Linked DNA regions of Homo sapiens: all the other regions are linked to region 3. Evidence: fine-mapped expression QTL. A gene starts in region 3. Each other region holds a variant in brackets. All regions are shown on one strand. Distances are from middle to middle. Region 1 overlaps DAPK2 (death associated protein kinase 2). Region 2 overlaps DAPK2 (death associated protein kinase 2). Region 3 holds the start of DAPK2 (death associated protein kinase 2). Region 4 overlaps DAPK2 (death associated protein kinase 2). Region 5 has its middle 27 kb from the start of MIR422A.

Evidence for each region.
Region 1: its variant is fine-mapped to the expression of DAPK2 in whole blood (TOPMed, PIP above 0.99).
Region 2: its variant is fine-mapped to the expression of DAPK2 in lymphoblastoid cells (TwinsUK, PIP 0.95).
Region 4: its variant is fine-mapped to the expression of DAPK2 in whole blood (TOPMed, PIP above 0.99). The same link has a PIP of 0.9 or more in lymphoblastoid cells.
Region 5: its variant is fine-mapped to the expression of DAPK2 in whole blood (INTERVAL, PIP 0.97).

What each region holds. Positions count from the first base shown.
Region 1 is chr15:63,943,486-63,949,378 of GRCh38, reverse strand. All of the region lies in intron 4 of DAPK2 (death associated protein kinase 2), which reads left to right. Among named protein-coding and RNA genes, the nearest start is that of MIR422A, 75 kb to the right of the region's middle. The variant A/G (reference allele first, on the strand shown) is at 3,422.
Region 2 is chr15:63,991,921-63,997,813 of GRCh38, reverse strand. The region is part of intron 2 of DAPK2 (death associated protein kinase 2); the gene reads left to right. Among named protein-coding and RNA genes, the nearest start is that of DAPK2, 52 kb to the left of the region's middle. The variant G/A (reference allele first, on the strand shown) is at 3,536.
Region 3 is chr15:64,043,583-64,049,475 of GRCh38, reverse strand. It overlaps DAPK2 (death associated protein kinase 2), which reads left to right and starts at 2,991. Exons shown (of 12, transcript NM_014326.5): 1 at 2,991-3,178. RefSeq lists silencers at 2,818-3,027, 3,048-3,107, 3,138-3,357 and enhancers at 4,558-4,607, 4,658-4,707.
Region 4 is chr15:63,983,797-63,989,689 of GRCh38, reverse strand. The region is part of intron 2 of DAPK2 (death associated protein kinase 2); the gene reads left to right. Among named protein-coding and RNA genes, the nearest start is that of DAPK2, 60 kb to the left of the region's middle. RefSeq lists an enhancer at 3,749-4,250. The variant C/TGGTTCTCAGC (reference allele first, on the strand shown) is at 2,835.
Region 5 is chr15:63,894,704-63,900,596 of GRCh38, reverse strand. No RefSeq gene overlaps it. Among named protein-coding and RNA genes, the nearest start is that of MIR422A, 27 kb to the right of the region's middle. RefSeq lists enhancers at 3,489-3,538, 3,739-3,788. The variant G/A (reference allele first, on the strand shown) is at 2,956.

The DNA of each region.
Region 1 (5,893 bases), 100 kb after region 3:
GAAAGCCAGTGGTCCTGGAATGGCCTTGAAAGTGAATTTTTATTTCTCTCCCTCTATCCCATGAGAGTATAGAGACAGAGCAGGTAGGGTTTTCTTTCCTGCTTTACCCAGTAGGGCAACAGGAGGTCAGAGCCACACAGTGGCCTACCCCAGAGGAGGAAGCAGTCATGGGTGAGTAGCCAGAGGCTGTGGTTTAACAAATCCAAGTGCAACTGAGTTCAGGCCCTTTCCTAAGCCACAACTGTGGGTTTTCTGGGAAAAACATGGAGCTGCACAGCAAACTGATGAGGCACCAGAGCTAGGTTGGAAATGGCAAACCAGCAGGCAAGGGTGATTTCAGAAGGCACGCCGGCATCAGCTAGAGGAGGGGAGGCCATGTGGGAGAGTGGAGAGCACACAGGATTTGGGGTCAGCCTGTGCTTGAATCTCAGCTCCATTACCTATTAGCTGAGGCAGTGTGGGCAAACGATCTCTTGTGCCTTGGTTTCTTCATCTGTAAAACTGGGGTCAGTTTTACAGGGGTCAGAAGCAAGACAGCACTTGCTTCACAGGGTGAGGACAAAATGAGACACATGTGACTTCTTTGTAAACTGTGACAAAATGAGACACATGTGACTCCTTTGTAAACTGTGAAGTGCTACAAGTTTTGTTCTACACGGACCTCTAGGTTGCGTGTGTGGAGGAACGCAGGAGGAGTGTGAGAAGCAGGCCCTGCCTTCAGCCAGTGTGCAGTCTAGCAGTGATATGGTTTGGATCTGTGTCCCCACCTAAATCTCGTGTTGAATTGTGATCCTCAGTGTTGGAGATGGGGCCTGTTGGGAGGTGACTGGATCTTGGGGGCGGATTTTCCCCTTAGTGCCTTGGTGCTGTTCTCATGATAGTGAGTTCTCACAAGATCAGGTTGTTTAAAAGTGTGAGGCACCTCCCCTCTCTCTCCTTCTTGCTCCTTCTCTGGCCAGGTAAGATGTGCCTGCTTTCCCTTCACCTTCTGCCATGAGTGTAAGCTTCTTGAGGCCTCTCCAGAAGCAAAAGCTGCTATGCTTCCTGTACAGCCTATGGAACCATGAACCAGTTAAATCTTTTTTTTTTTTTTTTTTTTTTTTTTTTTGAGATGGAGTCTCACTCCATCATGCAGGCTGGAATGCAGTGGTGTGATCTCCGCTCACTGCAACCTCTGCCTCCCAGGTTCAAGCGATTCTCCTACCTCAGCCTCTGAAGTAGCTGGGATTACAGGTGTGTGCCATCACACCCAGCTAATTTTTTTGCATTTTTTCTTAGAGATGGGGTTTCGCTATGTTGGCCAGGCTGGTCTTGAACTCCCGACCTCAGGTGCTTTGCCCACCTCGGCCTCCCAAAGTACTGGGATTATAGGCGTGAGCCACTGCGCCCATCAGGTATTTCATTACAGCAATTCGAGAATGGACTAATACAAGTGGGGAAGGCAAGACTCACTCACAGAGCTCTTGGTGGTGGTTGGTGCTATGGATCAAGCTTGTTGCATGAATGGAGATGGGAGAAGGAAGAAGAGCTGGGCTGCATATCCAAATGATGCTTCTGGAGGAAAGAAGGTTTGGGCAGGGCCTGGAAATGTGGTTAGGAGTTCAATAGGCAGATGATAAAGATTCTCATTCTGGGAAGGAGAGACATCATCAAGGAAATAGTCACAGAGACTATGATAACACCTATAGGCCACTTTATATGCCTTGTTTGATCCTCCTAGTAACCCTCTTGAGATAGGTTTTATGATTGTTATTCCTAATTTATAGGTGAGAAACCTATGCTGAGAGAGGTTCAATAACTTGCCCAGTGTCAGGCTGCTGATAAATGGCAGAGCTGGGATCCGAACCCAGATTCCAAGGCGTGCATGCTTAGCCATTATCTATATTCTCCAAAAGCAGGATGTGTGAGAGATGCATATGTGACCGCATTGGCCCATTTCTTTATTTGTCCAGTAAACAGTAACTGGGCCCTGCTATAATGCCAGCCGCCCTTGGGTGCTGGGGATGGAAATGAAAGGCAAGGCCCTTGTCCTTCCTTATGGGGTTTTAGTATAGTGGGGACAGGACATGTAAGGAAGGAATTGTAGTGCAGCTGATTCTCTGCCAGAGGTGTGTGCAAGCTGGGGACAACTAGCTGTGTGTTGGAGGGGAGGGAGATCATAGAAGAAGTTCCAGTGTGTGTGGGAACTGGGTGGAGAGGGGGAGAAGGAGCTTGTCAGGAAGGCTGTTCCAGCAGAGTGAACTGCAGGGTGGGATGGGGTGATGAAGAGGTAGCAGAGAGGTAGCAGAGGGAAAGCGGGCAGGGAGTAGGAGGTGGGGAAGCAGGGCCTTGAATGCCACACAGAGGCACGTATTGGGCATGGGCCACACTGAAGACTTGTGGGGAGGGGCTGGCTGTGGTCCCATCGACAGTGTGTGAGGACAGGGAGCTGAGCACCCTCAAAACCTGTCCACAGAGGCCTAGCATGGAGCGGCCTTCCTTTCTCAGGTTGCCCAGCACTGCCTGAATAATCTGGGGCTGTGCTTGACATGGCTGGTGAAGATTGGTAGGCAGCTTCCTTGTCCCCACAGCACAGCCCTGGCTGGGCCTCTGCTTTGCTGAGCAGAGCAGCCTCACTCAGCAGCAGGCAGGCCACACGGGCATCTGGAGAGGGCACTGGGCTGGAGGTCCTTGCTCAGTGACCTTGGTAGTTTCTTGATGTCTCTGGGCTGCTCTGACATGAAGGGACTAAATGATCTCTGAGGTCCCTTGCAGCCCCAACATTGTGAGCTCCCAGGGATGACTGTTCATGCTGCATCCCAGAAAAGAATGAGCAAACATAGCCACTGTTGTCTGAAATCTCATTGGGTGCTGCTCCTTACATAAACCATCTCTCTCAATCACAGAACAACCCCGTGGCTCAGTAGGTTTTGCCCCCATTTTATAGATGGGAAACTGAGCCTCTAAGAGCTCCAGTGTCTGTCCAGTTTTCATACTGTGAACAGCAGAGCTGGGATTTGAACCCAGACTTGCCTTTGTCTTTTGTACTTTATGACATAGCCCCCCAAGGGTGTCTTCATCCTGCTCAGACTTCAGGACACGCTGTGCTGGGCCCACAGGCCATGGGTGCCCCACCGGACAACCACCTTCTGGTCGGCACCACAGCAGGCACCTCTGGCCAGATCCCCCAGGACACAAAGGAGCACGTTGGCCTCTCCCATGGGTGCCTCCCTGGCGGGATGAGCTGGGTGGGTTTGTTTTGACAAGGGTATTTCTGCCTCCTGGTGGCAGGCAGGCCCTGGGCTGGGCAGTGGCGGCACCTGTGGGAATGTGACCCCTCCCTCCAGCCGTGCTTTGGAGGTGATGTCAGGTATGTGGGTGAAGTATTTGGTTGAAGTAAATAAAGCTGGAGGAGAATGACAGGAGTGGGGAGTATGGATAG[A/G]ATCGGACTGCCCCAGAGGGCACTCTGGCTTGGACCCAGCAGTGTGTGGTTGCAGCAGCCTGTTCTTCCTGACCTGGGGCCAGGAGACCTGCGCCTTTACACGTCCTGCCTTAGAGCCCAAAGCAGTAGGAATTTTCACAGCCAGCTTGGGAGGTTGTGCCATCTCGAAACTGCAGAGCCCAGAGCTTGAAGGGGCTTTGGATGCCATCCACTGCCTGACTTACAGTTGGGGGGCTGAGGCCCAGAGAAAGGACGTGGCCTGCTTAAGCTCACATGGCCTTGGGTGGTGGAGCTGGACCTGCAGTTTTCCAATCTGCAGGCCTGGGCTCTTTTGCACCACCCTGCTCTATTTGGGGAGGGTGGAAGCAGAGAAGCTTAGACCAAATTCCTGGGGAACTGCCACTCTGCTGACCCTTAGCTTCCTTTTGGACCCTCCCTTAGTGCCGTTCCTTCCTGCTCCATCCGCATCACAGCCCTATAGGAGGAATGCACTCTGGAGCCCCTAGTGGTGGTGCGGGGCCTGGCAGAAAAGGAGGAGCCTCTGGCCCTGGATTCTTTCAATTCATTTCCTCAAATATTAATGGAACATGCAGGATGCAAGACGCCACAGGGGATACCAGGAATCCTAAAACCAATTTGAATTTTCTCAGGGAAAAGGCTGCCACCCAGGAAAGTGGCATCACCTGTGAGAGACAGCCTACAGCTTAGGACTGCCAGCAGGCCAGCGTCATCAACACGGAGGGGTTAGAGCACAGGGTTGGGGGAAGCTCAGGGAGAAGTAAGGGAGTTAGCTGGGTGGTCAGGGTGGCTCATGTCTGTAATCCCAACTACTCAGGAGGCTGAGCGGGGAGGATCACTTGAGCTCAGGAGTTTAAATCCAGTCTGGGCAACATCTCATCTCTTTTTTTAGAAAAAGATTCTCTCTAAGTAAGGGAGTAAGGGGAGGCAGGGTTGAGGGGGAAGAGGCTCTGAAAATGAAGAGGAGTAGGACAGGCATTCCAAGCCAGAGCAAAGGATGGAGTTGAGATGTCGTTGTGGAGTGGTAGTGCCCACCCTGCGGGGATATAGAGCAGGTACAGGCAAGGGATGGGTGGTGAGGCTGGAAAGAGAGCATGGGGCAGTCAGTGCCTTGACTACTTCAAATATCAGGTGGGGCATTTGGACTTTCTCCGGTGGCCAGTGGGACCACTGAAGATATTTAACCAGATTCAGTGATGTGTTGGGGAGAAAGGGATTGGACTGCCAGGGAAGCCCCCACCCCACTGCTCCCCACTGATTGTGACATTACAAGCTGTTGCACCTTGGCAAATCATTTAGCCCTGTGTGAGCCCCGTTTTCTTATCTGTGAAATGGAGTTTATAACAGTACCTATCACTCAGCGTGGCTGCAAGGATCACATAGAACACTAGCATCAAATTTGGCTTAGTAAACATGCTGTAAATGTTAGTCCCTACCCTCTGTCCTGGCTGTCATCAGGCTAATAGTGGAGCTTGGGACAGCAAGAAGGAAGCCTGTCTGAAAGCAGGTAGAGCTTCAGGTTTAGGGGCCCAAATCCCCTGGCCAGCCTATAGGTACCTTGGTGGCCTAGGAAGGAAGCAGAAACATGGCTGGATAGCAGGGAGCCATGGCCTCTGTTTACTCCCAATCAGGGCAGGTCTGAGTCTATGGGTATGTCTGGTCCAAATGGCCCAATAAGTGAATGGTGAAGGTAGGGACGAGAACCTGGGTCCTGACGACCCAACAGAGCATTCCTACTGCCCCACGGCCACCTTCCAGCCTGAAACCCCCAGGCTTCATCCTTTTATCCAGACCCAGCTTGGGTGTTCGCCCTGCCAGGACCTCCGTTTTCTCATCTGACTTGAGGACCTCCTGCTCAGGAGCTCCTGAGGCCAGGGATGGGTTCTGGGGCTACTCACTTGCATGGAAGCATCACCAGAAGAAAAGGCACCCTGGGGTAGGACACAGGTGCCAGAGGAGGAAAACAGCTGTGTCTGAGCCAGGCACGAGGTTGCCCCAGGTTGCCAGGCCAGAGTGGCATTGCTGCTTCTCTCTGGGATAGATTTTTTTTGTTTTGTTTTTTTTGAGACAGAGTCCCTCTCTGTCACCCAGACTGGAGTACAGTGGTACGATCTCAGCTCACTGCAGCCTCTGCTTCCCGGGTTCAAGCAATTCTCCTGCCTCAGCCTCCTGAGTAGTGGCAACTACAGGCGTGTGCCACCACGCCCAGCTAATTTTTGTATTTTTTTTAGTAGAGTCGGGGTTTCACCATGTTGACCAGGCTGGTCTTGAACTCCTGACCTCAAGTGATCCACCTACTTCAGCCTCCCAAAGTGCTGGGAATACAGGCATGAGCCACTGCGCCCGGCCTCCTGGGCTAGATTAATAAGACCCCTGAGAAGCAAGGAAGGGGAATCATTTAGTCTAGCGGTTAGGAGCACAAACTTTGGGGCCTGAGAGATAAAGGTTAAAGTT
Region 2 (5,893 bases), 52 kb after region 3:
CCAGAGACCTCCGTGCCCTCAGAGCACTGCTGGTTAACCTCTGCCCCTCTTTGACTCCAGTGTGGGCCATGTGGGTGAGGACAAGGGCAATTAGAGGCAGTTAGTGTGGGAGACTTGATGGGTGGGTTTTCTAGAGGAAAGAGACCATTTTAGAGGCTAGGGTCCATTTTAAATTGCAGCAAAGGCCGGGCATGGTGGCTCACACCTGTAATCCCAGCACTTTGGAAAGCCAAGGTGGGCAGATCACCTGAAGTCAGGAGTTCGAGACCAGACTGGCCAACATTGTGAAACCGCATGTCTACTAAAAATACAAAAATTAGTTAGGCATGGTGGCGGGCACATGTAGTCCCAGCTACTTGGGAGGCTGAGGCAGCAGGAGAATTGCTTGAACCTGGGAGGTGGAGGTTGCAGTGAGCCAAGATCGTGCCACTGCACTCCAGCCTGGGTGACAGAGCGAGAATCTGTCTCAGAAATAAAATAAAATAAATTGCAGCTGGGGTAGACAAAGGACAAATAAATCATGTTGGATTTGACACATACCTTTCCTGCGCCCTGACAATTAGGCTTGAAGGAAACCTGTCAGGCAGTGCCAAAGCCTGTAATGGCTTAGAGCAGAGTTGGAGGAGTGGGGCAGGAGTGGCAACCCTGAAGGCACCTGGGAGTTGCTAATTGGGGGTGGTGATGACAGAGGAGATGGCACAGTTGCACTCTGAGCCGCTTGCCTGACAGAGGCTCTGGTGTCTGCTGGGGAGTAGGGCTGGATGGGAGAGGTGTAGAGGAAGATGTGCTTCTAAGAGGACTTGGACCTGTTCCTTCTGTCCCCACCCAGCCCTCCAGGCTTGTGGGCAGAAAGGCTGGGTGTGGACCTAAAGCCAAATCTTTTGAGGGTGGGGATGAGGGAATAGGCCACCTGCAAGCGTGGGGGCAGAGGGGGATGGGGGTGGCACCATTTCATTCCTGTGATAAATGCTTTTTGCTCTACAATGAACTTGGCCATTAGGATCGGCTGTACATGATTGCCTGAGTAGTCCTCCCTTGGGCAAAGCCTTTCACACTTTGGGACTCCCTTTAGCCGTCTGTGAAATGGGCTAAGCTCCGTTTTGGAAGTCGTGCTCTGCTGCCCACTGTATTTCTCCATGCTCGTGTCCTGGAGTGAACGCTGCAGTGATGGCAGCACAGAACCACTTATGATTCCTCTTGCTCATGCATGTTAAGAATTTGAGGCAACCTATGATGAGAGGCACATAGAAAGCAAACATAAAAGTGGAAGATCAAAAGCCAGATGCCCTCCAGAAGAGTATGATTTAGCAAATGTGTAATAAGGCCCGGGTGTCTCATTTATTTTTATTTATTTTTAATATTTTTGTGTTTAGAGCCAGGGTCTTGCTCTGTTGTCAGGCTGGAGTTCAGTGGCACCATCATAGCTCACTGCAGTCTCTTGTTCCTAAGCTGAAATGATCCTCCCACCTCAGCCTGCTGAGTAGCTGGGACTACAGGCACATGCCACCATGCCCAGCTAATTAAAACAATTTTGGGGGGCAGGGTAGAGATGGGATCTCACTGTGTTGCCCTGGCTGGTCTTCAACTCCTGGCCTCAAGTGATCCTCCTGTCTCAGCCTCACAAAGTGCTGGCATTATAGGTGTGAGCCACTGCATCTGGCTGTGCCTGAATTTTTAACCAGCTCCCCAAATGATTCTGATATGCCCCCAAGTTTGAGAATCCATGGTGCAAAGGAAGAAGGAGGAAATACACCCAACATCTAGGTCATCATAGTTGTTGTCATTTGGTACCAAGATAACAAAAAGGAAATAAGATAGATGACATCATTTTCATTATCTGAAATGAGGTAGACAAACATCTTTCTGGTAATTTCTGAAAGAAAGCCAACATGTGAGTCCTACTGTAAAGGACACTACACACATGCTGAATAATTTGGGGTCAGGAGAGATGCTTTGCCTCTCTAAAGGGGTCTTGTGCTGGTTGCCTCACAGCTGTGGCCCACCCTGGGGGCACCAGGCACGCTCTGCAGCAGGACCTGCTCACCCTCCAATGCCATGCCTTCCTTTAGTCAGCTAACAGGAGGGACATTGCCCGGAGCAAGAGTGCAGTGACTTTGAGGAAAGGACCAGGTCAGGGGGACAAGGGATGGCAGTGGGTCCCCTGGGTCGTGCAGTAAGTTTGAAGGTATACCCTGCATGGAGTGACCAACAATGTGACCAGCAATGGCAAGAGTCACTGAGGCACAGAATTGCTCCCTTCAGAGTAGCCCTAAGACACAGCAGTTGGGTGATTGAAGTAACAGGCAGGCGAAGTGAAGGGAAAAAACTTGTTACCACCTTCTGATGCTGAGAAAGACCTATAGCTTCTTTAGACAATAAACCCATAACCACTCTGGCCTATAAGAAAATCAGTTAGGGAAAATCTTTTCAACATATTTGACAAAAGGTTAAATATCACAAATACATAAAGAGCTTTTACAAGTAATAAGAAAAAGGAATAGCCGGGTGTGGTGGTGGGCGCCTATAGTCCTAGCCACTTGGGAGGCTGAGGCTGCAATGAGCTATGATTGTGCCACTGTATTCCAGCCTGGGTTACAGAGTGAGACCCTGTCTCAAAAAGAAAACAACAACAACAACAACCAGGGATGTATGCAGAGATTTATACATGTGTGTATTTATAACAGTATCATAATATTAAAAATTGAAAATGATATAAATGTCCAAAATTGAGAATTTGCTTTAAAAACCATGGTTTACCTGTATAATATGATATTATACAGCCATTTAAAATTAGATATTAAAATAATTTTTAATTATATGAGGAGATGTTAATGATCTATTGTTAAGGGGAGAATTTTTAAAAAGCAGGCTTCAAAATAGTATCTACAGTACCATCTCACTTACATTAAAAAATGAAAAAAACAGGCCAGGCACAGTGGCTCACGCCTGTAATCCTAGCACTTTGGGAGGCTGAGGTGGGCGGATCACCTGAGATCAGGAGTTCGAAACCAGCCTGGCCAATGTGGTGAAACCTGGTCTCTACTAAAAATACAAAAATTAGCCAGGCATGGTGGCGGATGCCTGTAATCCCAGCTACTCAGGAGGCTGAGGCAGGAGAATCGCTTGAACCCGGGAGGCGGAGGTTGCAGTGAGCCGAGATGGAGCCATTGCACTCCAGCCTGGGCGACAGAGGGAGACTACGTCTCAAAAAAAAAAAAAAAAAAAAAGTAAAAAAGATTTCAGTATGTGCTGAAAAACATCTGAGGGGCAGACACCAAGATGATAACGATGGTTATCTTAGAAAGGTGGGACTAAGGAACATTTTTTAGCTTCCTTTTTGTGCGTTTCCTTCCTTCCTTCCTTCCTTCCTTCCTTCCTTCCTTCCTTCCTTCCTTCCTTCCTTTTCTTTTAACATTCTTCTTTTTCTAATCAAAAACAATCAAGAATGTTTTATTTGTAAGTGAGTCTGCCAATGAAGGGTTCCTGCTGCACTGGGGGCCAGCCAAGGATGACAAGGCCCTTTATCACACTTCCC[G/A]GTTCTTCAGCTTAGGTCATCATTTCTACAAACACTGGCTGAATACCTGTTTTGTGCCGGGTGCTGAGGTGGGCCCTGTGAGAGTTATGAAGATAACACCTCTTACTCTCCAGGCTCTTACAGGCTGGCTTATAGTTGAGTGCCAAGATGAATGCCCAGGTCATTTCTTATAGAAATACTTTTGTGGTGTTTGGAGAGTTCAGCATTTTCCTGGCCATGAAGATAGTCCCTGAGATCTGCTCTCCTTGCCTGAAGCCCTGGTCCTCCTTTGTCTTTGAAAATTTAGTTGGCTGACACGTGACAGATCAATGTCAGTAGCCTGGACCCATGGCTGGGCCCTGTGCGGTAGGAAACCCAGAAACCACCGTGTGTGTCTGTGGAATGTTTCATATGTATCAATATGAAACATATGATACCTGTGATACAGTATGTCACACACTGACCTGCATCAGAGACTCTAACAGGGATTGGCATGAGGACCTGAAAGAGATATCTTGGTCCAATCCTTCATTTTTGGATGAGAAAACTGAGGCCCCAAGGGAAAAGGAAGCTTGGAAGTTGGTGGTAGAGCCAGGACCCCTAACCCTGTACTTTGCCCGTGATATGTAGTCTTCCCCATTCACAGCCCTGCATGTCTGGGAGAGGCAAGCAATCTTGGGCATTTTCAAGTCATGGTGAAGAAATAAACATGGGATTAAAAATTCACAAACATTTTGAGAAACAGAGACCATCCATCCTAGATGGCTAAGAGCTGACTATATCAGTGAAAAACAAGATTCTTACATCAAGAATCTCTCAGGCCTTAAGATCCTGGTGGACAGAAAAAAATTGGGCAAGAAATAACTGGTTATGATTTGTACACCATCCATATTCACATACACAGACACACATAGCCCTCTGCAGAGCCACCTGTTTAATGTGAATCTTGGGAAAGTAAAAAGACCTTTCTATCTCCAAGTCATCTTACCACTTTGCCCCATGTGTGCCTAAACTTGCCACTATTCAAGCCCCTTCTTGGTCACAAATAGTGTTAAACTGTGAAGGTGTTTCTTTGGAGGGAGGTCAGGATAACCCTTAGGGATCCTTTGTCACCTTACATGAATTATGGGAAAGATCACAGGGGGTTGTGGGCCAGGAAGAGGTGGAAAGTTCACAGGAGGCGGGCTGGATGCAGGAGAGGGGAGGGCAAGTGGGGAGGGAGGTATTCTAGAACATGAATGGTTCACTTTACCATTTTATGAGGGGTAATCCTGTACCCCCACAGTAACAGGAGAGCCTCAAACCATCCTGGATTTTCCCATCTTCTTTCTGCAGTCTTTTTCCTGCGTGGCAGCACAAGCTCGTTTTTAAGGTATTATCCTTTGGTTCTGTCTCCTGGGCTTTGCCCAGGCTATGGGCCTGGCTGGCATTTCTAGGAGGGAGCAAACTGACCTGCTCTGTTGAAGTTCTTTTGTTAAACATACATCTGACTGTCAGGAACTCAGATGGTGGGAAGGGTGCCTGACCCAACTGAGCCCGACTGGTCCCTTGACTGCTTGTTCTCTCCTTCCCTGTGCTCCCACAAGGAGGAAAGGAAAGGGCAGGTTCAGCTTCCTGATGTATTTCCTTGAGAAAGTGGCCACAACCTGATAGGGAGGGAGTGAAGGTGAGAGGTTATTTGGGGCCTCCACAGAATGAAGTGCTTGTGTATCACTCCCTGCCTCTCCAGCTGTTGCAGATAGTTCTTTCATGCCCAGGCTATATTTCCTTTTCATCTGCGTTTGTCTAATCTCTGCAATAGACTATATAAGCCTTTCAAGTTGTGAGGTGTGTCTTGTTTACAGCACTTAGGACAATGATCAGTAAATGAGAGACAGATGGATAGGTGAGTGGACAGTTAGGAGGATGCATGGGTGGATGGTTGGGTGAGTACATGGGCAGGTGGGTGGGTGGTGGGTGGTACCTTCCAAGCCCAGCATTTCCTCAGTAACCTACATCATGTTTAGTGTCTAGAATCTAGACTCTAGACTAAGGGAAATATCAGAGGATACTGAGCTATATTTTCAGTGAAAATCTTTCTTTACGTAGCCAAGTCAAACTTTAATTGAGCCTAACTTATTTCAGGTCCTAGACTTGCAGGCTTGAGCTCATTTGACAACAGCATCAAAATGTACTTAAGTTAAAAAATAGTTGTCATACTTTAGCCCAGCTTGGCCCTGCTAAGTGATTCCTTCCTTTTTGTGCTTTAGTTTTTCTGACTCCCTGTACCCCGCAACAACAACAAAAAAATGTCTAGAGGAAGGAAGTTAGTCTGTAGGACCTGGGAATGAAACAAGCCAGCCTCTAAAAGCAGCTGCTGCAGGCCCATACAGAACAGCC
Region 3 (5,893 bases):
GCAGTCTAAGCATGGGGGATTTTAAGCACCCCATGTTATTCTCAGTTATTCTGATGTACTGCCTGGACTGAAAAGTTCCAGATTAACACTGTTTTAGAAATCTTGGAAGTTTCAGTTGAGGGAAGGCAGCAGAGGGAATAGCTTCAGAGACCAGTAGGCAAGATTCATGTCACAGCTCAGCCACTTACAAATTGGATGAGTTTGAGCAAATCAAATTTCTCAAGCCTCAGTTACATCATCTGTAAAAGAGGATAATGACATCCCCCTAGAAGTGAAGCACTTGAAGTAAGATTATTGAGCATCTACTAAGTGCCAGGTGCTTGGGTGCTCTTAGGGGACAATAGAAAACAAGACAGCTATGGCCCCTTGTGATATTTACCTTCCTTAATTCAGTTTAAGAAACCTTTACTGGGTTTGGGATATCAAGCACTGTATGGGTTCAAAGATGGACAAGAAATTGTACTTGCCCTTGAGAAAAGGAGAAGTAGACACTAATTAAAATAGAGGAAGGAAGATGACAAGAGATGTACCAACCAAGAGTGGTGAGGTTCAAAGGAGAGAGGTATTTAGAGGGCAGACCAGGGAAGTTTCTGTGGAAGACATGATACTTTAGAAGGCTCTTAGAGGATAGATAAGATTTTGTAGAATGGGATGAAGGGTAGTGGAAACGAACAAAAGCATGGAGGCAGGAACAGCCAATAATCCAACCTGGCAAAAGAGCTGGATGTGCATGCAGAGGAGGGAAGGGAATGTGCATACACAGCAGGAAAATAAGGGTTGGGGCCTTAAATGCTAGGGTGAGGCATTAACACTCGATTTGGTCAGCCATGGGAACCATGCAGGGACTGGAACTGAGTTGGATAATTCTTAGCTCTTAATACCTGGACTGCCTCTGGCTTCATTCTGGAATTTGTGTCTTCATTGCCACTGTCCTCGGGGCCTCCCCTTTTCTGCTGATGGCCACCTTGGTCCTGTGTTCAGTGCCCTGTCGCTGCCCTCAGGTGAGGGTCTGATGAACTCACCCAACCTTAAGCATAAGATGCATCTCCAGATGGTAGCTTCCTAGATAGTTGCATTCTGGCAGGTACAGTGGAAGGGGCACCAGACTGAATCTGGAGGAGGCCTGGTTCTAATCCTAGCTCTGTCTCTCACCAGCTATGTGATGTTGGGCAAGTCACCTCCCTTCTCCGAGCCTCAGTTTCCTCATCTGAAAAGTGGCCAGGGTCAATTGACAATGACCCTTCCAGCTGCAATGGACTCTGACTAACTTGTCAATTGCTAAACCCAAGAATGTCTCTTTTGACTCATGTAAGGGGCTGCTGCTGCTGACAATGAGGTATTAAGCATGAGGCTCAAGGGAAAGAGATGGAGAGGCCACATGTAGGTGATCAGCAGGGTCAGCTGAGCCCAGCCTTGGATTCATCACAGCCCAGGTACTGGGTATGAGAATGGAGAAATCTCCAGATGATTTCAGCCCCCAGCTATTCAGGTGTTCCCAGTTGAAATCCCAGACACTGCAGAGCAGAAATAAGCCATACACACTGTGCTGTCTGAACTTCTGTCCCTCAGAATGCATGAACATAGTGAAACTGTTGTCCTGTGCCACCAAGGCTGGTAATGGTTTGTCACCAGTGATAGGTAAATGGAAATGGAGGAAGAGGTGTTTAGGGATAGTTTGGTGGGGGACTTCTCATGTTGGTGAAACTTCACCAGTGGGTGTCATTCCCTTAGGTCCGTTGACATCAGAAACCACCTCTAGTCTTGGATATTACTCTATATATCATGCTGCTCTTAGGAGAGGAGGCTCGCTGGCTGCACTGTTCTGAATTATTGTGAAGTTTATAAACAAGGAACTCTTTGCCGAGGATGTCCTGGACCCGGAGGCACTGCTCAGCTGGGGGGTGGGGTCCATCTGTATTTGTCCCAATGTCCAAAAGGCTGAAGGGTGTGTGTGTGCTCACACTGGTAGAGGTCCTCTAGGTGCATCTTACACACTCCATCTCATCTCAGCCCCACCATAGCTTCATTAGGAGCTACCGGAAGGTGCGTTTCTCCCACTTTACTGATGAAGAAAGAGCCATGCCCAAGAACACACATGCGGAGTGGCAGGGCAGGGCTTTGAACCTGGTGGTAGGACTCTGAATCTAAGGCCCTTTTGAGGAGCCCCATGGGTGACTTAGGGATGGAAATTCCAGGGGTTGGAGGGGTCCTCATTTGCTTCCTCTAAACAGCCTCTTGTTTTGAAATAAGACAAATGAACTTGGCTTAAGTTCTGTTTTCCCTTCCTTCCTCCCTTCACCCCCTCACTCTCATTCCTTTTTTCCTCAGGGATTTTTTGGCAGAGGGCAGAGAGAGGAACCCATTCCCAAGTCCTCTATTAGAGAAGGCGTGATGGTGAGAGGGGGGCTTCACTCAGCAACCGTGCCAGGACAAAGGGCAAACGAGGGCAGGCCGCTCTCAGGCTGGGTCGGGGGCAGTGAGGAGCAGAGCGGCCCTTCTCATCGCAGCCCCCACCTTGCTGTACGCTGTGGGCTTGAGGTTTCCAGGAGAGTCTGCGGTGTAGGGAGCGCTCTGGCTGGGAGGGAGGAGACGGCCTATTCCTCAGTGGGGCTTCCTCGCTCACGGTGTGTATGGTGGGGAGAGGAGCACACAAGTACCATTTTCTGAGGATTGTGCCAGACCATGTCATACGTATAAGCTCATTCAAATCGATTTCCAGATAAGGCCGGGGGAGGGTAGCCGACTTGCCCAAGGCCACGCAGCATGTGCGCGGTAGAGCCGGTAGGGACGCGCAGAGGGTCTTGCTACCGACTCTCCCCGCTCTCCCGGGAGTCTGGGAGCCCTGAGGTGTCCCCTACCCGGCCGGGAAGCTGGGCTCTCGCCCCGGGACTGTCCGGAGGGGGCTCCAGCAGGGGGCGCCCCGAGCCCCGTCCCGGGCAGCCGGGCGCGCCTCCAGCCGGCGCCTGGGACGGGGCTGGCCGCTCCGCCCCCTCGGCTCCTAGGCTGCTCGGCGGGCGGGTGCCGGGCGCTCTGGGAGGAGAGGACTGCAGGGCCGAGCCCAGCGCACCCCGCCGCGTCCCCCGTTCCCGCCGCGCCCGCCGCGCCCGCCGCGCCCGCCGCGCCCGCCGCTCCCGCCGCGCCTGCCGCGGCCGCGACCGCGGCAGCTCAGCCTCCCGCCGTGAGTAGCACCCGTCTGCGGGCTCGATGGGCGGGACGGGGCGCGCGGCCTGACGGCAGCAGCGCCCGGGTCTGGGGCTGGCGGGGCGAAGAGATCCGGGGCACTCGCTCGCAGATCCCGGGCCCGCCGCCCCAATGCCTGACGCCGTGGCCCGGGGCATTGTGGCCGGCACCCGAGCGCGGGAGCTGCCCGCCGCTGCCCTGGGGCGCCCTCCGGAGCCTGGCACTTTGACCTGGGAGACAGGGTAGAGGCGGCGGGCAGAGCCAAGCACCCAGCAGGGAGATGGGAGACAGACGTCCATCGAGTTAGGCCCCCTGGAACGGGCAGAGCACGCCCGGCTCCCGGCCAAGTCTTCTCAGCTTGGGCTGACTCTCTCACCTCTTGCTCCCGCCTGGCACAAGGATGTGATGCGAGGAGGGTGCTCAGATGTCTGAGCTTCCTCTGGGGCTGAATGAAGCTGGGGTCCCCGCCGTCAGGCGCCCCGGCCTGGGGTAGAGCTAGGATGGGCGTGGGGGCGGCCAGCAGGTGTGCTGCAGGTTGGGGTGGAACGGCTTGGAAGGGCGTTGCCAACAGTTGACTAGGACTCTGGGCTAGGCATTTTGGAGGTCCCAAGGCTTGCATAGGTCTGGCTAACCCTCACCGTAACTCTGCACGGTGGAAATTGGTATTCTTACTTTACAAAAGAGAAAACAAGGTCCAGAGAGGTGAGCCTCGTTGAGGCCGTGCAGGTAATGGTAAGGCAGTGGTGCACACTGGAGGAGAGGGCACCATAGCTGGCTGCCTCGGGGGCAAGCGGGCAGGTGCAGGGACAGCGCCTGACATCTTGTATCCTGGAATCCTGTGGAGGGCAGCCACTCTGGTTTCTGACACTGCGACTCCCAACTGCCTCTGTGGAAGATATTCCTGGGAGAGTCCTGTTGACCTAAGAGGCCGTGGTGCCTTGGCCTCTTCACAGCTAACTTCACAGCCCTGTCCTTCCCCAAACCGCTCATCTCCCAAGATGTTTTTTGAGCACCCTCAAGTGGCACCACTGATGATTCAGCACCTTCAGAGGAGACTTGGGCAGAGGGGTCAGGGGTGTGTGGATGTGGCTGGAGGTCTGCTCCTCTGGGGTAAGTTCCTGGCTGGCAGGAATGAGACCCGCACTGACCCTGCCCACCTCCTTGAGGCCTCCCGATTTGTTAGCTGTGGGGTGAACAAGCAGGCTTCCCAAGGGAGCTGGATCTTTGCCAGAGAGACCAAGTTTTTCTTGTGTCAACTCAGGCAGGTGGCTGACCTTCTGTGGGCCCCAGCTTCCTCATTGGAGACTGTGATGGGTCAAAGCCTGGAATGTAGAGAGGAGCTCTGTAATGCCGGAGCCCCATCCCTTCTGTTGGCAGCCTCTCCAGAGCCTGAGTGTGATGATTCCTAATGGGGGTGTGTGTAATGAGACGGTCGTGTGTGTTTTGCCCAACCATTGCCTGCCCTCTTGCTGTGGTCCCGTTTCACTCACTTGCACTTGGTGAGGTGGGATGAGGAACTGAGAGAGTTCACTTTGCAGAGTGAGCTGGGCCAGTGGTGGAGAGGGCTTCTTGAGTGTTGAGAGTTTCCTATGAGGTGATCTTCCAGCCCTAGACACCTCCTCCTAGCTTGTCCCTCAGGAGGCCACTGACTTTGCCAACCCTGGTGACATCTTGGAGGAGTTGGGGTGGCTATCAACAGAAGAAGCCCTGGGAAGAGGAGCGGGATGGGTCACCTGTATGATGCTCAGTGAGTCCCTTCCCCTTTCTGGATCTCAGCTTCCTCTTGTAAAAACAAGTGGGTTAGACCAGACAGCAGTGGTTTTCAAACTTCTGTTTCACAGTGAATTCTTACCCAGAACGCCAACATATAGTATGGATAACGTGGAACTGCTCTGGCTTCCCCTTCTCACCCTGGTGATCCTGAAGCAGTTCTAAAAATCCCTAAATAGATGATCTATGGGGTTCTAGGAAATCTGTGGTAGCCCCCTGAAGTGTTGCCTGGTATTAGAGTTGTAGGCAGGAATTTGAATTCCAAGGACTCCATCAGGAGAAACATGGGCATTAAGGTGGGTATCATCCTGGGAGCATCTGGAGCTGATGGCCTGTGCTTCTGGCCAAAAGTTGTAACTGTGTCCCTTCCCTCTGCCATGTGATTTCAGCTTTTCGAGGCTGGAAAGGTCCTTGTGCCTCTGGCTCCTTATCTGGGTCCTAGCTGGTGACTATAATTCCACTTCAGTTTCACCCCTTTAGTTTGTTTCTAAACTGGTAAAATGCAAATTCGCCTTAGGAGAGGTGTTAGGAAAGTGCTTGAAGTGGCTATCAGTTGTTTTACCTGATGAGCATCTGAGTAGCGGCCTTGAGAAAGGAGGCTGGGGAACTAAGTTAAAATCAGCCAACACTTATATAGTGCCTACTGTGTACTAGCCTACGACAAGGGGACAGAGGTAGGAATGTCACAATTCTTGCCCTTATGGGGCTCCAAGTCACAAAGAGGAGGGAAGGAATTCACGTTATCCATGGACCGTTTAAAACATTACACATGGGTTATCTCATTTGTCTCACATTAGTCTCATTTTAAAAAATTATGTAAAATTTTGATCACATACAAAATCATCCCATATATCCATCTAACTACCACCCAGATCAGGAAACAACATTGCTGGCACTCTGAAGCCTCCGAAGCTCCCCTTCCAACTCTCCCCTGAGTGAGGGG
Region 4 (5,893 bases), 60 kb after region 3:
TGTGTATGTATGTATGTGTGTGTATGTATGTATAAATAAATCAAACAAACCGATAATAAAATCGAGTAAAAATCAGTCTGCTTTTTACTATCACCACATGCCAGCAATTCAAAACAATGTCGAATACTGTTCTCTTCTGGGATGGGCCCCTCTCCTCACTACTTGGTACACACTACTGGTCAGTTACCTCGAGAGCCTCATTGTAGCCGGAGTCAGTGACGTGGATCTGTGTCCTAGCCCTGTTCCCTGGCCCAATTGCCAGTCACTTTACTTCTCTAAGCCCAGTTTTCTCTCTCTCTTTTTTATTGGCTTTTTTTTAGAGACGGAGTCTTGCTTGTCGCCCAGGCTGAAGTGCAGTGGTATGAAGTGCAGTGGTATGATCATAGCTCACTGTAGCCTCAAACTCCTGGGCTGAAAACCATCCTCCCACCTCAGCATCCTGAGTAGCTGGGACTGCAGGTTGTGCCACCTTGCCTGGCTTTTTTTTTTTTTTTTTTTTTTGGAGACAAAGTCTCACCCTGTCACCCAGGCTGCAGTGCAGCAGTGCAGTGGCATGATCTCGGCTCACTGGTACCTCTGCCTCCTGAGTTCAAGTGATTTTCATACCTCAGCCTCCCAAGTAGCTGGGATTACAGGCTTGCACCACCATGCCTGGCTAATTTTTGTATTTTTAGTAGAGACAGGGTTTCACCATATTGGCTAGGCTGGTCTCATACTCCAGGCCTCAAGTGATCCCCCTGCCTCAGCCTCCCAAAGCACTGGGATGACAGGTGTGAGCCACCATACCTCTCCAGTTTTCTTATCTGTGAAATGGAACTAAAAATGATACTTGCAAATATTGAAAAAGAGAATGAATATGAAGTTAGCTCATTAAGAAAAAAGCTGGCCGGGCGCGGTGGCTCATGCCTGTAATCCCAGCACTTTGGGAGGCTGAGGCAGGCAGATCACTTGAGGTCAGGAGTTCAAGACCAGCCTGGCCAACATGGTGAAATCCCGTCTCTACTAAAAATAGAAAAAAATTAGCCATCCATGGTCGCGGTGCCTGTAATCCAAGCTACTCAGGAGGCTGAGGCAGGAGAATCACTTAAACCCAGGAGGTGGAGCTTGCAGTGAGCCGAGATTGCGCCACCGTACTCCATCCTGGGCAACAGAGCGAGACTCCAGCTCAAAAAAAAAAAAAAAGGAAAAGCTGGATGTAAATGTTGTAATGTTCACATTGCTATACAAAATTGATCCCGTGGTGTGACATTTGGTTCATGCCCTGTTTATTTACCCTTGACAGTGAAGACTTTGGGGGGTGGGGATTAAGCCAGGCTCCTCCATGAACCTTAAGAGCTGAGGTTGGGGACATTTCTGAGCACTGAGAAGCTGTTCTAGGTATACCCCTTTTAATGTGAGTCCTGGGCAGACAACTAGAGAGCCCTTATGAGGTGGCACCTGGGGGCCTGACAAGTTTGGAAATGAGGCCCATCTGCCAGTGACACTGATCTTGACACAGCCCACTTGTCCTCCCAGGTGCTGAGTGAGTGAGGAGCTGAGTCCTCTGCCTGGGAAGAGGGGTGTGTTCCTGACAGAATTGCAGGAGAGTGTGCTGGCAGAAGCGGGGTGTTTTCTGTATCTTGAGGATTTACTGTCCCTCACGAAACCATCCTACGTGACTTTTGCAAGCCAGTCTCAGGCACAGAGTTCCCACCCACCCACACCTCATGCTCTTCTGCAAGGCTGGATGGTAAAGTCCTATCTCAGACATTACCTCATGATTTCCCAAACAACCCTGGGAAGTGGGCAGGGCAGGTATTATCATCCCCATGTGACAAAGAAGGAAACTGAGGCCTGGGGAGTTGAACAGGCTGCCCAGGGTCCTGGCTCGTTAGTGGTAGGGCTCTGACTAGACTCCCAGTCTCCTGACACCAGCCCAGAGTTAGGAATTTGGAGAGTGAAGAGAAAGGGCTTCATTCCTGTTTAGAGTTGTCCCAGGCTCTTTGGAGCTGTCTGACAGGAAGCTTTCTAAGATGAGACCTGGGATGGCAGATGGAGAAACATGAACTGAAAAGGCAGCTCCCTGTCAAGCCCATGAAACTTTGATAGCAGATTAGGACGAGGAATCGGGCCTCCTACCAGCCCCGTGCTGCAGTAGACCATGCATAGGTATTGATTGTTGCTATGGGGGGCAGAGATACTGGAATATGTGTGCTTTGCATATGTATACCAGATTCCAGTATTCCCATCATTTTTGATTTAGTGTTAGCAATGACTTTCATTAGAGGTTGAATTGCTCCCTTCTGCTCCCTCCCTGGATGACATTCTGGGTGGCTCTGTCCTAAAGTAGACAGACCCTCGCCTCCCACCCATCATCCCTGTAGCCTAGCTGGCGACTTCTGCACTGTGGGACCTCAACTTCTGGCTGCAGAGCCTTCTGTGTGCAGAAAAAGGCCTGTTGCTGTCACCTGCCCTTGGGTTGGCTGGGCCCTCTGATGGGCATACTAGAGCCACCTCAGGTTCTGCTTTTGTGCATCTGCTGAGTACAGTGGCCAGGGAGTGCCTGACTGCAAATTTTCACTCCTGTTATCCTCCGAAAGCTAGAGTAATCTTCTGCCTTGATTTGCATATTCATAACACAGCAGTTAGACTGGTGAACCCCTCAAGCAAAAATCATGCTGATGGGAGAGACAACCCCTCCCCTCTGATTCCCTTTCTTTACTCCTTTCCTGAAATGATCAGATCAGAGAACTATGGGGAAGTGTAATACTGAAAATGAGGAACTAGTATGAGTAACAGTGGTATAGTTTCTTCATTTGTGAAATGGAGATAATCAGAAAGCTGTTGTAAGTCAG[C/TGGTTCTCAGC]CCTGGCTGCATGTCAGTTACCCAGCGGGCTTTTAAATAGCCCCATCTTCAGGCCCAGACCCAGGAGATCAGAATCTCTCAGGGTGAGACTTAAACACTAGGAGTTTTAAAATTCCCCAGGCAATATCAATGTGTGGCCTGGGTTGAGAACCACTGCTCTAGGATTTAAAGAGTTGGCTACTTGCTCGGAATAGAGCTATTTTCACATCTGGCTGTGCGTGGGAATCATTGGCGGGGTAGGGTGGTGCTTTTAAAATTAAACTGAAGCTGGGTGGTGTGGCAGGCACCTGTGGTCCCAGCTACTCGGGAGGCTGAGGTTGGGAGGATTGCTTGAGCCCAGGAGTTTGAGGCTGCAGTGAGTTATGATCACACCACTGCCCTCCAGCCGGGGCAGCAGAGCCAGACCCCATCTCTAAAAATAAATAAAATTAAACCAATTCCTTGGTTTCACATTCCAGACCATTTGAATCAGTGACTTATGTCTCTGGATGTCTCTTGCTCAGCCTTCACATGAACCACTTTTGAGTACCACGGGCCAACATTACAAATATTTCCAGTCTTCACAATTCTCTAGCAGGGAACCCTGATTCCCATTTGACAGATGAGCAAATCTATGTTCAGAGCAGGTGAAAGCATAAGTCTCTGAGGCCAGGCCTGTCTGATCTTGAAGCCTGGGGGCTGGGTCTGGTGGAGGGTGTTCTCTGCTCTTCTGGAAACAGCCCAAGGAGTGGGGGACACCAGCCAGCAGCCTTGGCTCCCTCTGAGGCTCCCCTCTACAGGTTGAGCAGAGGGCTGTGCCTGAGTGAAGACAGGTGAGACGAGTGGTGGTGTGTGGTATTTGGCGCCATCGTAGTCACCCACTCTCAAAATACCTCCTTTTGGGGAGGGAAAGATGCCTGTGCAGTGGGCCTGCCCCGGTCACCACTCATTGCCACAGCTGTCTCGCAAAGAGAAAACTCAGGCAGGAAAAGCAAACACTCATTTGCTTTTTGAGAGTTTGAGGAATTTTTCAGGCATGTGATATAGAAAAAAAATGCCACTGTTTCCCTCATAAGAGGAAGGGGAAACAACGTCAACATGGCCTGAAATGTTTAGCTCTAGTTTACAAAAGCCCTTCTGCCGTTTCACAAGTCCTAAGGCTGTCAACACAGTGCAGGGCTGGGAGCTGGGGGATTTGGATGCCAAGCCAAGCCCTGCGCCACTGCCTATGTGCTCTGTAAACCTAAGTGTATCCCTTACCACCCTTAAGCTTTGCTTTCCCCACAGGTCAAGTAGGAACTCAGGGCTTCTGTGACAAGGTCACAGGGACTCTGAAATGCCAGGCCCTGCCAGCGGCTGCTTGAGGTGTCGGAGAGGAGAGGCGTGTGGCTGCCTTGACACTGAGACTCAGAGCCACCCGGGCCTGGAAGCTCGGTCAAGTGTTTGTTGGCACCTACCAAGGCACCCGCTGTCCTCGAGGCCCAGAGTGGCTCCAAGAGACCATATGTGTTAGAGTTCACACTGAATGTGTTCACTCTGGCTCTGGGAGGCCTGGCTCCACTCCACCTGCGTCAGCCCTTAGTGTGTGCACAGCTCAGAGCCAATATTTGGAACTGAAATAGCTAAAAATTTAGAGTCAGTGGACGATGTAAGATAAATTTGGCTCCACAAAGCCTTCTCTGCCCAGTCCAGCCCCCAGGATCTTCTCTTTCCCTAGAGCTCCATCTGTACCTGTTGTCTGTGCCTTTGGTCCCTGCCCCGTAGTGCCTAGCACAGATCCTGGCACAGACTGGATGCCCAGACAGTGTTGATTGAATGGAGATTAAGGCAATGGAGAGATGCATGAGTTTGTGTTTGGGAACGTCTCTGAAGTGGCTGCCATAGAATGCTACCTAAGTGTTGGCCTATGTATCTGTTGCTTGCTGAACTTGACTTTGTTGTTGTTATTGCCACTCCGGGTATTTTGAAGACTGTCTCACTGAGGATGATGCTAATGATGGAGTGGTTCAGATGCAGTGCTATTTTGCTATTTTCTGCATTTGGGGCAAATATCCCAGGCATTTCCCTGTATGTAGCTTTTAACCCAGAGCCACTAAGAGTGTACCTCTTAAGTCTGGAGTCTGCTGGCCCCTTATTGAGCCATTAAGCTGAACCAGAAAACTTTCTGAGTTACTCAAGCAGTGGGTATTTTGGGTGGCAAGAAAACATGGGGCAATGATGGCAAATGGCAGTAAGGGGACGGGAGGACCCCCGGGCAAGATGGTCACTGGGAAGTCTCTGAGGACTTAGATCTGCTCCTGCTGGTCACTGAACTGAGGTGCAGAAGCAGGTGGTTGGTGCCCTTCCCTGTGGGGAGGGCCCCTGGAGCACTCAGGGAAGCTGGCTCAGGGCTGCCTGCCACTCTGCCATGGACTCCATTTCATGCTTGCTGTCTCTGTCCCTGGAGTAATGGGTTTCTGAGCCCAGCCCTGGGTACTAGTGCCTGAAGGGGAATAATAATGGTCTAGACTGCTCTAACTATCTCAGAGGCTTTGTGGACAGCCGGTTGGGTATCTGACTTTGAGGCTTGGCTTTGCCATTAACTCTGCGATGACCTCAGGCGAGTCACATGACCTATCCTTATGCCTCAGTTTCCTAATTGTACAACTCTCTGTTTATACCAAGTCCTCTGACTGTGATGCTCCCCCACTATGATGATTAACCTTGTTAGGCTGCCTCCTCTCCAAACTCTACCCAAACCTGGATCCCCACCAGCCCAGTCTGCTTATGGACATTGTGATTTCATCTGGTGGGTCCTAGACTTGGGTTCTAGCTGAGATTTTGCAATGACAAGGCTATGTCATCCTGATCAATAACCTTTCTGGGCCTCAGTGCTCACCTCTGTACACTGGGACTAAGAATACTAACATTCATTCCTCATAGAAGGAATGGACAGAAGGGAAGCCCAGTCCCTGCCCCATCTCATCCACAGGTTGTCATCAGGTGGGGATGCAGACTGGTGGCATGATTTGTCCTGTCCTGGCAGAATCACTCTGAATTTGTGTGACCTGGTAGCTGACAGTGGGGTCATTTCCCCAATG
Region 5 (5,893 bases), 150 kb after region 3:
TGAATCTAATTCTTCATTTAAAAAAAAGTAAGTACTTTGCCTTCCTGTTTTACATCCAGCTTCTGAATACCCCTGGGAGATGGAGCTATGGGCCCAGCCTGGCACAGACTATCTTTGGTTTATGAGGTCAGGTGTGCCAAACCACCAGCAGGGCAGAGACAAGCATCTTTGTAGGCTTTATATTCCAGGCACCCTTGGGCACTGGACACCCTGCCTCTTTTCTTACTCAGGAGTTGATTGTCTGTGGAGTCCAGGGCCTGACTTTTCCTTCATAGAGACGTTGTAGTTCACCTCTTACGCGTGGTGGCGTGTGCCTGTAAGCCCAGCTACTCAGGAGGCTGAGGAAGGAGAATTGCTTGAACCCGGGAGGTGGGGGTTGAAGTGAGCCAAGATCATGCCACTGCACTCCAGCCTGGGTGACAGAGTGAGACTCCCACTCAAAAAAAAAAAAAAAAAATCTCCACAGTGTAACTCTGCTGTGGTTGGTGTGTATCTGCCTTTTTCACTCGTTTTTATAGATGAAATACTATTTTATGATGCATCCCAACAAGTATTTGTTAATTTCAAGACAGTAGTGGATAAAAGTGAGGTGCATGGGGGGTTAAGGTAAGAAAGAAGCTGGGAAGGCCGGGCACAGTGGCTCACGCCTGTAATCCCAGCATTTTGGGAGGCTGAGGTGAACAGATCACCTGGGGTCAGAAGTTCGAGACCAGCCTGGCCAACATGGTGAAATCCTGTCTCTACTAAAAATACAAAAATTATCCAGGCATGGTGGCGGGCGCCTGTCATTCCAGCTACTCAGGAGGCTGAAGCAGAAGAATCACTTGAACTTGGGAGGTAGAGGTTGCAGGGAGCTGAGATTGCACCACTGCACTCCAGCCTGGGCAAGAAAAGCGAAACTCTGTCTCGAAAAGAAGAAAAAAAAAAGAAGAAAAAGCTGGGAAGAATTATGTTGCCATTGAAACTTAGAAATATACTTCAAATAGCCAAAGAGTTTCATTGTTTTGGCTGCTTCACTTATTTACACACTTTGCCCCTGTGAGCAGGCACTGAGTGTTTGTCTCTGGGCTGGCTGGCAAGACAGAGGGTGGTGGAGGTGCTTGGAAGATCTGTCCGGAAGGGCCGGGCAGCCTGACGGAAGGTCGTGCAAGCTTCCCGTCTGTGGGTGCAAGAGGAAGCTCTGGATGGGAGCTCTTTGAAGGGAAGGACTGTGTCAGTTCATTTATGGGGCTCCACAGTGTGCTGGTGCCTGGCAGATGGTATGAAGATCTGAGGAGGAAAGGTGGGGTGGGAGGGAATGAAGGAGGGAATGAAGGAAGGAGGGAAGGAGATAAGAAGTGTGGCAGCCCCGGAAGTGCCTTCAAGAGAGAACCCGCAGCAAAGAGTGCTATTCACTGCTGGCCCCCAGCTGCCACCCCTTCAGGGTGTTGTATTAGTTTGCTAAGTGCCAGCTGACTTTTCAAATACTGTTCTAGCCTGTAGGTTTAAGTCCAAAGAGACATGAAGGCACCTGGAGCATGAGCTGGCAAACTCAGCCCAGTTGGCCTTGGAAGTTGTCCTCAGACCCACGTCCTTACTCAAACTCCAAGAGGAGGCGATGTTTGAGGAGGCAGGGCTGGGAGGGGCAGGGGTATATTCTACCCCTTCTCCTTAAAAGGGGAATAAAAATCCCAGCCCAGGTATTCTCAGAGCATTCTCAGAGTAGCCACAAGGTCTTCACTCTCCGTAGGCTGCTTTTGGCCAGTGATTGAGCATGGTGGGATGGGAGACACGCGGCGGGTACTCGAACCAGGCCATTCCTGCCCAGCATGGGACCCTTCTAATATTTGCCCCTGGACTGCTCATCACCTGGCTGAGCCCTTCTCTGGGTTGCTCTGCCATCAGAGGCACTTCCTAGCCAGCCCTCCTTCCTTCCCACCCTCCTTCCTTAGGTGTCACACCTACATCATGGCCTGAAAGCTCTCCCTTGCCTACTCCTGCTTCCTTTCCCCTTCATCCTTCATAGGCGTTCCTCATCCCACACCCCAGGTCTCCAGCACTTCTCATCCCATCTTGGCATCTGCTTCCTGAAGAATCTGAACCCACATAGGAGAGAGGGCAAAAGGAGGAAAGTTTGAATTTGCTCCTTCTTTTTGTCTCCACTGATTCCTTTGGCAGGCATGGACTGACACAGCCACTGCACTCACCTTAAAGCTGTCAGCTGGGGACAGTGGTGCACCTGTAGTCCCAGCCACTTGGGAGGCTGAGGCGAGAGGACTGCTTGGGTCCAGGAGTTGGAGGCTACATTGCAAACTATGATTGTATCTGTGAATAGTCACTGCAGTGAGACCTGTCTCTTAAAGAAAGACAAAAAGGAAAAGAAAGCTGTGAACAGAGCAGTTGGTACTCAATTCGTCTTTAAAAAAAAAAATCAATGGTGGGCCAGGCGCGGTGGCTCACACCTGTAATCCCATCACTTTGGGAGGCTGAGGCAGGTGGATCACCTGAGGTCGGGAGTTCGAGACCAGCCTGGCCAATATGGTGAAACCCTGTTTCTAATAAAAATACAAAAATTAGCTGGGCATGCTGGTGGGCACTGTAATCCCAGCTACTTGGGAAGCTGAGGCAGGTGACTCGCTTGAACCCGGGAGGCAGAGGTTGCAGTGAGCCAACATGGCACCATTGCACTCCAGCCTGGGAAACAATAGTGAAACTCCATCTCAAAAAAAAAAAGAGACCAAGAAGCATGACATGAGGGGCGCATGGGAGAAGCTGCGGTTTCTAACTCTGGGAATCTGGAGGACTATATGAACAAGGTGGACTTTAATTTGGCCTTAAAGGATGGGTGCTAAGAGAAGGGACAGGAAGTTATGGGTTAGTATTCTGATTGCTTGTCCTTACGCCTTCTCGTGGCTGAACTTTGGAAAGCTACCAATTAAATGAAAGAATGAGACTTCTGCGGGTTAACTGCACGGT[G/A]GTGAATTAGTAGTTCTACCATTTTCCCCTTCTCTGTCCATTGTGACCCTGGTTCTTGGTCAGAGACCAGAGGGCCCTGTCGGAGAGCCAGTGGCCATCTGTTGGGGTTGGCAGAGGCATTCAAGGTCAGGCATACGGGACAGATCTGATTCTTCCTGAGTCCTCTGGAGGAGTCTGTGTGTGTGTGTGTGTGTGTGTGTGTGTGTGTGTGTGTGTGTGTGTCTGGCTGTATTCGGGTAACTGTGTGTTTCTGGGCATACCTAGGCACCCGTTGTGGACATGTCTCTGTGGGGTGTGTGGACGTGTGTGGATGTGTCTGGGTGTTTGTGTGTGTGGATGTCTTTGTGTGTGTATCTGACTGTCCGGGGGCCTGTGTGTGCATGTGTGTGTTGGGTGTCTGTGCATGTCCGCGTGTCTGCGTTTGGGGTACGTTTGGGTATCAGTGTGTGCACATCTGTCTCTGTAGTGGATGTGTCTGTGTGTGTGTGTGTGCATCTGAGTGTGTGTCTGGGTGAATGTGTGTTGTCCAAAAGGACTCATGGAGAAAGCGCCTCCTGGGCCCAGGCTTTGCAGAATCTATTCTGCTGTCAGACCTCTGAGGCAGGTCAGAGTGACATTCTGGGCGATGTGGTTGAGGACAGCCGCATCTGCTGAGTCATAAGGATGTGGGCCCTGTGTGTTCACAGTTGGACATATCGCCTTTCACACCCACGGAGGGGAAATTTCAGCCAGGCTGGCTGACCCTGCATTCTTTCAGAAGGTCATGACCTCAAGTAGCCCAGGGAAGGAGAGGAAACAGGAATGCTCGTAAGACCTAGAGGTTGGCAGAAGGTGAACTGAGACCCAGGTGTTCCCCAGCTGGGTCCGCTGGGTCGTGGCTTTCTCAGGCCTTTCCAATAACTAAGCTGAGGGCTTTGGAACTGATGGGACACTTCCTGGTGGGGGAGGAAGCCCGGGCAGATTTTCTTAAATGATACAAACTGCCAAGCTCACCAAACTTTCACAATCGATGCTGACCCTGGAAAGCCCCACAAAGCCATAAGAGTCTAGACTCTGGAAAATCCTTCTCCTTCCTCTCCAAATCAACCAATCAGCAAATAAACACCACTACACATAGTATGCTTAGCTGCCATGCAATCAAGCGAGGCTTTCACGCTTATCGGATTTAAACAGTAACGTTTCCCCAGGGATGGCAGGGGCAGAAAGCCTCAGTCCCAGGCTTCTTGGTTGGAATGGGTTTCACAGGTTCTTTCCTAATATCAGATGGGGAGGGGTGAGGAGGGCATTTGCCCGCTGGAGCACACCTGGGAGAGCACCACTTGTGAGGGAAGGGTTCCAGCAGGACATCGATGGGAAACGCACATCAGGAAATGAACATCTGAGCATTTACATGCACCCAGCATGGGGAAGGCACTGGAGAATATTCTGCAGGAGGATATTCCTGTTCCTAAGGAGCCCGAGCTGGGAGCGCACCTGTGGATATTCAGCTTGCCCATAGATGAGCTGCTTCCCCTGGCCACGTGAGATATGGATGAGGTAAGGAAAGGCGATGTGAGTACATCGAGGTGGGGTTGGTCCTTCGGGGGAGGCGGTGATCAGAGGAAGGCAGGGAGGCTGGCCTGGAGCAGGAGGGTGTCACCACTGGTCACTCCTTGTATTCAGACAGTGAAGGCCACTGACAAAATGTCACACTTGCTGTGACCACTGGTCTCCAGTAAGGTCCAGCCAGCCTGTGGGGCCTTGTGGGTCTGGCATGCTGGGCAGCGGGTTTGATGGGGGGGTGTCAGGTTCTCCTGGGGAGAGAGGGCCCCAGGAGGGACATTGAGGTAGTCAGTACTTGGTCTAAGCAGGGGTTTCAGAGACTTTGTAGATGCTCGTCCAACACCACTGAAGATGCCCAGGGGCGACAGGGAGCTCAGGATCTCTTGGCAGGACCCTTAAGGGCTGGTGTCAAACTGTTCAGGTTGTTACAAGTTCTTTCTCAGGTTAAGCTCAAGTTTGCCTCCCCGCAGATCCATCCATTGTCCTGGTTCTGTCTTCTGGGGTCATATCTATTTAGCAAATATAGAGACAAAGATGGGAAAAGATAGTTCATGTCCTCAAGGAATCCACAGTGCAGTGACAAGGATGAAATAGGCGCTAAGCTGGGAGCTGAGGAAGGAGTCCTGTGTTCCGAGGGATGGGGGCCCAGGCAGGCCTCCAGAGGAAGTAGCCTTTGAGTGCGCTTCACAGATAAGAGGATTCACATGGGTGGAGGGGGCTGCAGAGTCCAGGCCAGGAACAGCTTGAGCAAAGACACAGAGGTAGGAGAGAGCAAGGTATCCCCTGGGGACGCGGGGCACCCTGTTGGGGTGGGGCCTGCTGCGGTGGGGAAGGGGGCTAGATAAAGAGGGGCTTCAACCCAGGCTTAGGCCTTTATTCAGCAAGCTATGGGGAGGGTTGAGAGGTTTCGTGAGACTTTATCAGAGCTGTGGCTAAGATCAGGGGTTCTCAAAGTGTGGTCCCTGGCCAGCAGCATTAGGGTCATCTGGGAACTTAGAAATGCAAATTCTCCAGCTGCCTCCCAGACCTCCTAGATCAGAAACTCTGAGGGTACTTTAATAGGCCCTCCAGGTGATTCTGATGTGCTGCTTTAGAAAAACAACCCGAGAGCTGAGGGAGAGAGGGGAGGTGGGGGGAGCCTGGAAGAGGCCGCAGGTGCTGCTGCATCCTCAAAAAGCAATCACAGCTGGAAGATGGACCCGAGCATGGGAGGAGATATCACTAACAACGCTCCCAACTACAGTAACCAACTGTCCCAGCTTGCCTGGGACCTGAGAGGTTTCATGGGACATGGGACTTTCAGTGCTAAAACCAGGAGAGCCCAGGGCAAACTGGGATAGTCAGCTACCCTGCCCTAACACTGCCCAGGAAGACGTACTGCTCAGGTTGTTTATGA